3 linked regions of the Homo sapiens genome follow. The protein of the gene in region 2 purifies or fractionates together with the protein of the main gene of each other region. This does not show direct contact. Each region holds a gene or a part of one and is shown on either strand. Other genes may lie near its edges. The genes, in order: KLC1, DNAJC18 and TMEM33.

Evidence for each region.
Region 1: the proteins of DNAJC18 (region 2) and KLC1 purify together in Homo sapiens (affinity purification with mass spectrometry, with the first as the bait; one large-scale study listed by BioGRID). This does not show direct contact.
Region 3: the proteins of DNAJC18 (region 2) and TMEM33 purify together in Homo sapiens (affinity purification with mass spectrometry, with the first as the bait; one large-scale study listed by BioGRID). This does not show direct contact.

What each region holds. Positions count from the first base shown.
Region 1 is NC_000014.9:103,670,625-103,674,282, forward strand, and holds part of KLC1 (kinesin light chain 1), read left to right. Parts: intron 1-2,389; coding exon 2,390-2,563; intron 2,564-2,707; coding exon 2,708-2,807; intron 2,808-3,658. UniProt on the Homo sapiens protein: Kinesin is a microtubule-associated force-producing protein that may play a role in organelle transport. The light chain may function in coupling of cargo to the heavy chain or in the modulation of its ATPase activity.
Region 2 is NC_000005.10:139,409,688-139,412,757, forward strand, and holds the end of DNAJC18 (dnaJ homolog subfamily C member 18), read right to left. Parts: 3' UTR 516-3,070; downstream 1-515.
Region 3 is NC_000004.12:41,945,368-41,949,025, forward strand, and holds part of TMEM33 (transmembrane protein 33), read left to right. Parts: intron 1-3,658. UniProt on the Homo sapiens protein: Acts as a regulator of the tubular endoplasmic reticulum (ER) network by modulating intracellular calcium homeostasis. Mechanistically, stimulates PKD2 calcium-dependent activity. Suppresses the RTN3/4-induced formation of the ER tubules.

The sequences.
Region 1 (3,658 bases), on a different chromosome or scaffold from region 2:
TGCCCGGCGCTGTTTTTTGTGTTTTTAAAAATTTTTCGGTTTTAGGTTTTGAGAAATAACCACTGTGATGTGTTTTTAACTGACTATTAGCTGAAAACAACTCATTTAATTAGAGAATAGCCCACAAAACAAAGCCAGATTGGCCCATACAAATCAGTGTTTAAGACTCAATTACAGGCTGGGTGCAGTGGCTCATGCTTGTAATCCCAGCACTTTGGGAGGCCAAGGTGGGAGGATCACTTGAGCCTAGGAAGTTTAAGACCAGCCTGGGTAACATAGTGAGACCTCGTCTCTAAAGAAAAAAAAAAGAAAAGAAGGTCCAGTTATGAGGCGTGTGCATTTAGAAAGGTGCAGTCCTGAGTCTGATGCTGTCCAAGCCTGATATGGCCTAGAAGTGACTCTGATTGAAGAAGACATGTCTGAGGACTAGAGATGGAAAGCCTGGGAGCATTGCATTTGACAGTGGAACATGTGCTTGTCAATAAGAAAAACATGATTAAAGATAAATTCACCAAATATGCTTTATGAAGCTGAAAAATGAAATAATTATTATTATAACTAAAGATTAACTCAGAGCTATAGATTAAGTCAATGTCATATATATTTAATACCAGCTGCTACAGTTCATGGTAATTAGGTATTAAAAAATATAACAACTTGTTCATTTCAGCAGTGCTGTGTATGACAATCTCTTTAGATGTTATGAAGATTCGGGTATTGGGTCTATCCGATGAGTGACCACAAATTGTGTTTTTTTTTTTCTGAAACGGAGTCTTGCTGTGTCGCCCAGGCTGGAGTGCAGTGGCACGATCTCGGCTCACTGCAGCCTTCGCCTCCTGGATTCCAGGAATTCTCTTGCCTCAGCCTCCTGGGTAGCTGGGATTACAGGCATGTGCCACAACACCCGGCTAATTTTTGTATTTTTTAGTAGAGATGGGGTTTCACCATGTTGGCCAGGCTGGCCAAGAACTCCTGACCTTAGGTGATCCATCTGCCTTAGCCTCCCACAGTGCTAGGATTACAGGCATGAGCCACTGCACCCAGCCGCACAAATGGTATTTTAACCTGGTATTTTTTGTGATTATTTATCAGTGATTCTTATCAGTTAATTTTGAGCCACATGGCAAGGAATTGGGGGAGAGAAAATAAAAAGGGGCTCCTTATCAAATTATACAGGTAATATTTTATCATGCTGTCAATCTGCATGATATTTCTGAAATAGAATGGTTGAATTTGGGGTGGGCTGGAGTTAAAGTCAGGGAGAGCACAAAAGTATCAAATTAAGGATTAGGAACCATATAAGATGACCTGCCAAATTCATTCATATATTTACCCTTTCATTCATTTAGAGCCCCCTGCTTAGAGTTGGTGATTTACAGATCAGACATGTAGTTCCTCCCACTAGGACACAGTCCACTGGACAGACTGAGGACCGCAGAGGGCACATCAGCATCTAGAATAGAGAGCTCTGGGAGGATATGAAGTGTGGGCTTCTGCGGGCCAGAGCCAGGGGGTGTTGGGGATGGTTTCTCAGGGAAGGTCGGTGTTGGAACTGCATCTTGAATAATTGAGTTAAAAGTGTCCTAGGCAGGGGGAGGTAGGGAATGCAGAAGGGAGTAGAAAGGCAGCTTACCTCCCTGAGGACCACATGTGTAAAGGCACAAAGCGGAGAGAACTCATCACTTGTTCAAGGTACTGAGGGAGGAGGTTAGTGTTCATTCATCTATCTCTGTGCCAGACCCCTTTTTCGATGCGGAGATTACATTGGTGAAGAAGAGAGACAAAGAATTTATACTCTTGGGGCTTACATTGTAATAAAAAATATTCAAGGTAGTTTAGAGAAGTGATTCTTATAAAGAACAACCAGGTGATGTGCCTGTGAGTTCACTAGGTGAGGTGGGGTGGTATAGGGAAGTCTCCTTTGAGGGGAACTGAGGAGAACCCTGAAGGATAAGTCGTAGCTAGTAGGGAGGGCTAGGAGAAGAGCATCCTGGGCAACTGGGACAGCTGTGGGCTCTTCAGAAGCTGGCAGTAAAACTCACATAGCCTTTACAAAGCCCATTTCCTTATCTTCAAAATGTGCCTAATGTGTACATTTGTACATAGTACAACCAATGTACAAAAATATAACTACCATGAAGGATTACTACAGTAATTAACACAGCTAAAGAAGATGAGCACAGTTCCCTCCCTCCCCTCATGAATAAGAATTTGAGAAATTCTGGTTATTTTATTACTACGTGGTGTAGCGAGCCAGTTAAGGATTTAAATCTGAAAGTGTAGCACAGTCGTGCTTATGTTGAGGAAGATCCTGATGTGACAGTAGGGTGGAGAATGGATTGGATGGAAGCAGAACAAGTGTCTCTAATATGCTGTTTTTTATTTTCAGGTTTTGGGGAAGGATCACCCCGATGTTGCCAAGCAGTTAAATAACTTGGCCTTACTGTGCCAGAACCAGGGCAAGTATGAAGAAGTAGAATATTATTATCAAAGAGCCCTCGAGATCTACCAGACAAAACTGGGACCTGATGACCCCAACGTGGCTAAGACGAAAAATAACCTGGTGTGTTGACTGCACAGCACTAGGGAGGGGGCCAGGAGTGCTTTCGTCCCAAGTCCAAACACTTTCTCATTTAACTGGAGATTAAAATGTATGCTTTATTTACATCTGAAAGATATGAAATATTTTATTTTATTTTATTTTAAGGCATCCTGCTATTTGAAACAAGGAAAGTTCAAGCAAGCAGAAACACTGTACAAAGAGATTCTCACTCGTGCACATGAAAGGGAGTTTGGTTCTGTAGATGGTAAGAAATATACTCCCGTTTCAAGTGAATTTAATTGTATAATGACTTGACTAATAGTAATATACTAATAGTATTAGTTACTGTTTATTAAGCACTTAACTTTGTACATCACTAAGCTAAATAGTTTAAATGTGTGATTTCACTTCACTTTCACAGCAGTCTTGTGCAGCGGGTCAAACATTACCCCATTTTAAAAGCAAGGATACCACAGGCCGGGCGTGGTGGCTCACGCCTGTAATTCCAGCACTTTGGGAGGCCGAGGTGGGTGGATCACGAGGTCAGGCGATCGAGACCATCCTGGCTAACACAGTGAAACCCCGTCTCTACTAAAAATACAAAAACTTAGCCGGGTGTGATGGCGGCCGCCTGTAGTCCCAGCTACTCGGGAGGCTAAGGCAGGAGAATGGCGTGAACCCGGGAGGCGGATCTTGCAGTGAGCCGAGATCGTGCCACTGCACTCCAGCCTGGGCAACAGAGTGAGACTCTGTCTCAAAAAAAAAAAAAGACACCACAGACTAAGTGACTTGTGTGAGGCCCCGTAGCTGAGAAGCAGTTAGACTGGGATTACAGTGCCCAGAGCCCATAACATGTCCTCATTGCAGAGACCTATACAGTTCACGCAGAAATGGAGACAGGAGCATCACCCAAATCCATCTTCATGTCCTCATTGCAGAGACCTACCCAATTCATGCAGAAATGGAAACAGGAGAATCACCCAAATTCATCTTTTCACATTTTTAATGTCTTTCCTTCCTTCTGTGCCTTTGGTTTACAGATTTCAAACCATACCGTCCATATCATCATGTATACTGCTTATTTTCTTTACATTTTTAGTGTGAGTACCTTTCAGT
Region 2 (3,070 bases):
AGATGTGAGCTCCAGGAGTCTTGGTGCTGGGCCTCACCTGTTCCCTGACCCCCATTCCAAAAACCCAGCCCACCTGGCTCAGAGTAAGTTCTCAATCATTGCTGAATTGAATCTCATCTCACTTTCTTTTTCAAATGAAAGCTATCATGACCAGTTAGGATCATGTAAATATCATTTACTATATTTTTAAACCAAAACTTTCCTAAATATGGGCCACTAGGACCAAAGCCAGCAAGGAACTGGGATAACACCTGAATTTCTGATGCTAAGTGTAGTTTTGATCTGTATATTGGCTGTGAGGTACTGCAGCTGCTGTTATCTGATAGAAAATGTGGAACTGATGCCAACAATGCTATCTACTATTCTAAATGCAAATAATCCCACTGACGGGTGAGGGAAGACTGGAGCAGGCGTCAAAAGCTTCTTTAGTCGGAAGTGGCTCCAAGGGAGTCAGGCGATGTGCAGTGGCCAAGGATGCCATGGGCAAAGGTAAAAGAACCAAGGAAAAGTAGCCATTCTTTTAATATAAAATTGTTTAATGTTTTTCTTTGTTGCAGTACACTCAATCCAGATGTAGTGGATGAGGTGGCCAGATTTTTTCAAGATTCTTAGTCCACCAGGAGCTGATTCCATTTGTGTCATCCCTACTCTGGTCACAGAACATTCACATCTTTAATTCCAAATACTGAGCGTGATGTAAATGATGTAATCAGTATCTAACACGAGTATATACTTTCTTGGTGGCCACTGCATGACATATCAACAGTGCAGCCTCAAAAAAAAGATGTTTTGTAACTTGGCCCTTTCCAAAAATAAATATATTAGGACACTAAGCTTATACCTTAAATGAGGGCAGAATAAATATGAATGAAGTGCAAGCTCCTGTGAGGAGCAGTGCATGCAGATGATGTACTTGCTTGTATGGTGTGGCCAGCTGTAACAGAAAGCCACTGGAACGGCACAGTGCCTCCTCACAAAGCCCATCCTGGGTATCATGAGGAAAAAGAATGACACATAGCTTGGCCAGGCTGCTGGAACCCATGTTCCAGTGGCATCTGGAGTTCACTGTATTTTCTTTTTTCTTTCTTTTTTTTTTTTTGAGACAGAGTCTTGCTCTGTCACCCAGGCTGGAGTGCAATGATGTGATCTCAGCTTACTGCAACCTCTGCCTCCCAGGCTCAAGAGATTCTTCTGCCTCAGCCTCCTGAGGAGCTGGGATTACAGACACGTGCTACCATGCCCGCCTAATTTTTGTATTTTTAGTACAGACAGGGTTTCACCATGTTGGCCAGGCTGGTCTGGAACTCCTGACCTCAAATGATCTGCCTGCCTCAGCCTTTCAAAGTGCTGGGATTACAGGCATGAGCTACTGGGCCTGGCCAGTTCACTGTATTTTCGAACAATTTCCAACAGAAAGCACAGCAGTGACGTTTCCTTACTGGTCACTGCTCCCGTGCTGTGAGGCCTGGAGCTGATCAAGGAAGCTTACACATTTCCCGGCCTGAGCAGATGAACTCTAGGGTTGCTAATCTGGGGACGTGGGTTCCTTCAAGCTCTTTGTGATGAGAAGGATTTTCATCCTCCTTTTCTCACTGCCGATCGTGCGGTAGAGAGAGCATCTTCATTTGAATGAGAGCTTCAGTTTCTGCTTGAGCCTCAAGCCCTATTTCTGAGCGCTGCTCCTCTCACACACGTCTCCAATCTGCAGTAATGCTCAAAGAAACAGTCTAGAGCTGGGTGCCAAGCTCCGGCAGCAAGAATAAGCCCTACCTAGTTATGTATGATCAGGAGATCTTCCAAAGGACGTAGGCGAGAGGAAAAAGCTTATTTTACCACCATGCAGACAACCCATCTAAAATATAACCCAGGAAATTATAGCTTCACAATATTCTGGATAGTATCAAATAGATAAATCCTTCAACCAAAAGCAAATACGGTTCCCTTGAGGAAAAACAGATGTGAATGTTGTGGTCTATTGGCAATAAATAAAACAGTACCATCGGTGCTATAAAAACAGACAATCAGCGTGACATTTAATGGAGTTAGTTATTATTGCTTCTATTTAGTATCATCACAGATTACTTATCGCTGCCATGAAGTCCATAAAATGTGTGACTACCTGATTCCTGGGCATCTAGGACAGGGTCTTTTAACCTGTCAAGTCAGTTTCATTATGGCCAATTTTCTAGCAGTGGTTGGGGATGGGGAGAGGAGAGCTTTGATTTTTTTGTGTGTAGAAGAACTTTCCATAAGCCTGTTTGGCTCATGGACATATTTTACAATGTAACCTCCCTCAGTCACTCAGAGGGGATCAAGAAGGGCCCCCTAAAACCAGGAGGACAGATCTAGTTGGGCAGCAAAATCTGGCTATTTCTAGAAATGCTCCCTCTCCCTGCAACTGAGCAGTTGTCCCCTACAAGCCACTAAAGCCCCCAATCTTTACCTGTGAACCCATCTCCTGACTCTGTGGAATGCCTGCAGAGGCATGGTAGGGAACAACCGTTCAGATGTTGATGAGCCATGCTAGGCACGTCTGTGTAAATCATGGCCATGCATTGGGATGAAGAAACTTTACTTTGGAATCTGTTTAATGTAGACTCTTTTTTTTTTTGAGATGGAGTGGAGTGCAGTGGCGTGATTTCAGCTCACTGTAACCTCCACCTTGCAAGTTGCAGCGATTCTCATGCCTCAGCCTCCCGAGTAGCTGGGACTACAGGCATGTGCCACCACACCTGGCTAATTTTTGTATTATTAGTAGAGATGGGGTTTCACTGTGTTGGCCAGGCTGGTCTTGAACTCCTGACCTCAGGTGATCCACCTGCCACAGCCTCCCAAAGTGCTGGGATTACAGGCTTGAGCCAGTGCACCCGGCCGACTCTCTACCAGAAACTTTTCTTCCAATATGAAGGAAGCATGGAGTGTAGGCTACAGTCACTTAATGATCCTTCCAAGTTCAGAGTCATGATAATTCAGGCAGCTCAGCTCCACAGGAAGGCCCAGAACCACACAGCCCAGGCAGTGACTGAATTCTTCCTAGTCACCAGTGGAGGGCTGCCTGCCTGTGAGGGAC
Region 3 (3,658 bases), on a different chromosome or scaffold from region 2:
ATTAAAATAGTATTGACCTCTGCATTGAAATTTTTGCATTACATTTTAAAACAATACACCTTGCTACCCAGATGATTGCTTTATCAATTTTTAGTTTTACAAGTAATGAGACATTACAGATAAAAGCTAAAATAGCATTTGACTATATGAATTCTTGCTGCAATTTTGTCCTCTTCCCAAAGGTGTAAGGAGTTTAATATGTGTCTATGTATGTAGTCCTTTAAAAATACTTATACAAATTTGTAGAACATATATATTATGGATGTGGAGTTTTGTTTGTTAATTTGTTTAGTTCTTATTTTACATCAAAGATGTTATTCTGGCTGGGCACAGTGGCTCATGCCTGTAATCCCAGCATTTTGGGAGGCCAAAGTGGGCAGATCACTTGAGGTCAGGAGTTCAAGACCAGCCTGACCAACATAGTGAAACCCTGTCTCTGTTAAAAATACAAAAATTAGCCAGGCATGGTGGTGCACACCTGTAATCCCAGCTACTCGGGAGGCTGAGACAGGAGAATTGTTTGAATCTGGGAGGTGGAAGTTGCAGTGAGCCCATATCACGTCACTGCACTGCAGCCTGGGCAACAGAGTGAGACTCTGTCTCACCAAAAAAAAAAAAAAAAAAGAAAAGGAAAAAAAAAAGTGTTATTCTGTACCTTTTTCCCACTTGTATGTTTTCATAACCTAATTGATTTGGCATATCCAGTTCTGTTTTTTTTTTTTTTTTAGCCGTATAACATTCCAACTTATCTCCTGATCATGGAATATGTTTCCAAATTTTCAGTTTTCCAAATATTGATGCAGTAAATATTTTTTACCTGCTTATACTTAATGCCAGTGTTTTCTTTAACATAGATACCAGAATTGATTTTGCTAGTACAAGCTAGGTGCCTTTTGTGTTTAATGGACCATGCTAAATTGTTCTTTAAAATGTCTGTATTACCTGTTTTTCATAATTTTGTTAGTTTGTAACAAATGTCCTTATTGATCATATAGTTATATTTTATAATTTTAAATGTACCTTGCCTTGATTAACTAGTAAAGTTTTCATGTACTTGACAGTTACTTCTTTCTATAGCAGTCTCTTCAAACTAAGAACAGAGTTTTATAGATTTCCTTATAAATATATATCTGTTTCATTCTTTTAAGTAGTGCTTTCTTCTGAGAACTCCAGGACTGGCTGGTGTTGCTTAAGTTGTATGGTCCCAACTAGATTTGATGCAGTTGTATTTGTAAATTAACTCTAAAACCTTGACCCTAAAATTTAATAAAAGCATCCTCTTATCCTAGAAGCTGAAAGCATATAAAAGAAAAGGGTAATGTAATCTGGGACAGCAGAAAAAGGGACAACATCAACATTCTAATATTTTTTCCATCATTTATAGGTTTTTCTTTCCACCTCTTTCTTTTGTGATCCTGATCTACACTTAGAAACTTTAATTATTAATTAGTAAGAGGAACTTTTTGCTCCCTTTTGTTATTCATTTTTCTCGGGTTTTTGTGTCACTTAATCCTGCTTTTGGGTCAGGATCACAGGTTCTGTGATTTGTTTCATGTAACTAGATGAAAGTTAAAATGGTAGATACCAGGCCGAGCACGGTGGCTCACAGCCTGTAAACCCAGCACTTTGGGAAGCCAAAGCTGGCAGAGCATGAGGTCAAGAGATCGAGACCATCCTGGCCAATGTGGTGAAACCCCGTCTCTACTAAAAATACAAAAATTAGCTGGGCCTGGTGGTGTGTGCCTGTAGTCCCAGCTACTCGGGAGGCTGAGGCAGGAGAATCGCTTGAACCCTGGAGGCAGAGGTTGCAGTGAGCCGAGATCGTGCCACTGCGCTCCAGCCTGGCGACAGACCAAGACTCCCTCTCAAAAAAAAAAAAAAAGATAGATACCGAGACTAGTTTTTTTGTATGGGTATAATTGATGTCTATATCCTGAAACCTCCAGATTCTGTTTAGTAAGCAAAATAATTTCTTATGCTCCTCTTAAATCAGATTAAAATAATTTTAATGAAATTCTGAGATGCCATGCAAACTTAGACAAAAACTTCACTTTGGAACTATAGTGAATTTTTTGTTAGGAGCACCAGGTTTTGACTGCGTTGGTACATTAATTCAATTGTGCTCCTTAAATGTTTAATTTAAACATTTATTTGTACAAACTTACCATCTTAATTTTTAAGATTACTGTAAAAAAGATGAGAATTTACCAGAAATGTTTAAATAGAGAAATAATTTTGTTTGAAAAATTAAAATCAGCTTATAAAGTGGTACTTAATTCCTATTAGGAAAAGCTGTTAATGCCTTAAGTAGGTAGTTTGAATATGACCTAAACAATAAAATTAAGAACAGTCTTACATTACTGCTATTCTTAATATGCTACCCTTTCTGGTATACACACAGTCTAATATTAGGAGGCTTTATCAAGTTACATTTGTGCCAGTAATGCTTCAAGCTCTGTATTTAAAAATTGATGCATTGTCTGAGTTTATCTTACACATGCGTTGCACATGTGTGCAAAGACAGGTAAAAGGATCATTGTGGCTTTTCTTCTAATTGACTGGAGCCACCCAAATATTCATTAGTACGGAGTTTGTTACATAATAGTCCAAGCATTAGATGGTATATTTGAAGCTGTAAAAAAGATTGCGGTAATTTATGTGTTGTGATATGGGATAATCACCAAGATATAATAAGTTAAACTTAGTTGTGTAGGGTGTTCTCCATTTATATTTAGTGGGGTGTATGTGTGTAAGGACATAGACGTTTCTGTCTCAGTTTTTTGGGAATGATAAACCATCTCTGTCCTAGAGTTGTTAAACAGATTTAGTGAATTATAAAGTGAGCACTATCAATGTTAGTCATTATATACACTTGTATATATACATTTCTGGAAGGACATATTCGAGATTGTGGTATAAGTTTGAGGAAGGGGCTAACTTGGATGATGGGAAACTTGTTTTTTAAGTGAATATTTTCTATTTATATTTTCTATGTTGTGTCTCTTACATTTTCACTTTAAAAAGATAAAAATTTGTCAAATTATTAGGGAAAATGGATGTTGCATTTGTTTAGTGGTAAGTTCGTAATCGTGTAAATTTTTTTTAATGAAAATGATACAATTTAGAAGAAAAGGCTAAAAAACCTAATAAAACACATTTGGCATCTTAATATATTTCTTCCAATTTAAAAAAATACAATTGTAATAATATGTGTAGTTTTATATTCTGCTTTTTTCAGAGTTGCTATGTAATTTTCATAACCAAGATTCTAGGTAGTTGCATATTAAATCCATTAAATAACCATAATATAAGTTGTTCAATTCTACTTCCTTACAGTTCACATTAGGTTGTTGCCACATTTTGTTTGTAGTTATTTCAGTGAATGTCTTAATTCAGATAGTTTTTCTTAGGGAAGAATTCCAGACCTGGTATTTCATAAACATATATATAATTCTTGGGATATTGTAATTGTGTTTTTTAACCAAGAACAATAATTAGTATAGGCTGTTTAGATTTACTGATGAGCCAGTGTAATTTTTTTGGTGGAGGGGAGTGTTTGTTTCTTTTTATATATATAAAATAAGTCACTTTTCATTTGCATATTTTATGAAGCTTTACAACTTGATTTCATCAATTAGTAATTACGGAATTATTTAAC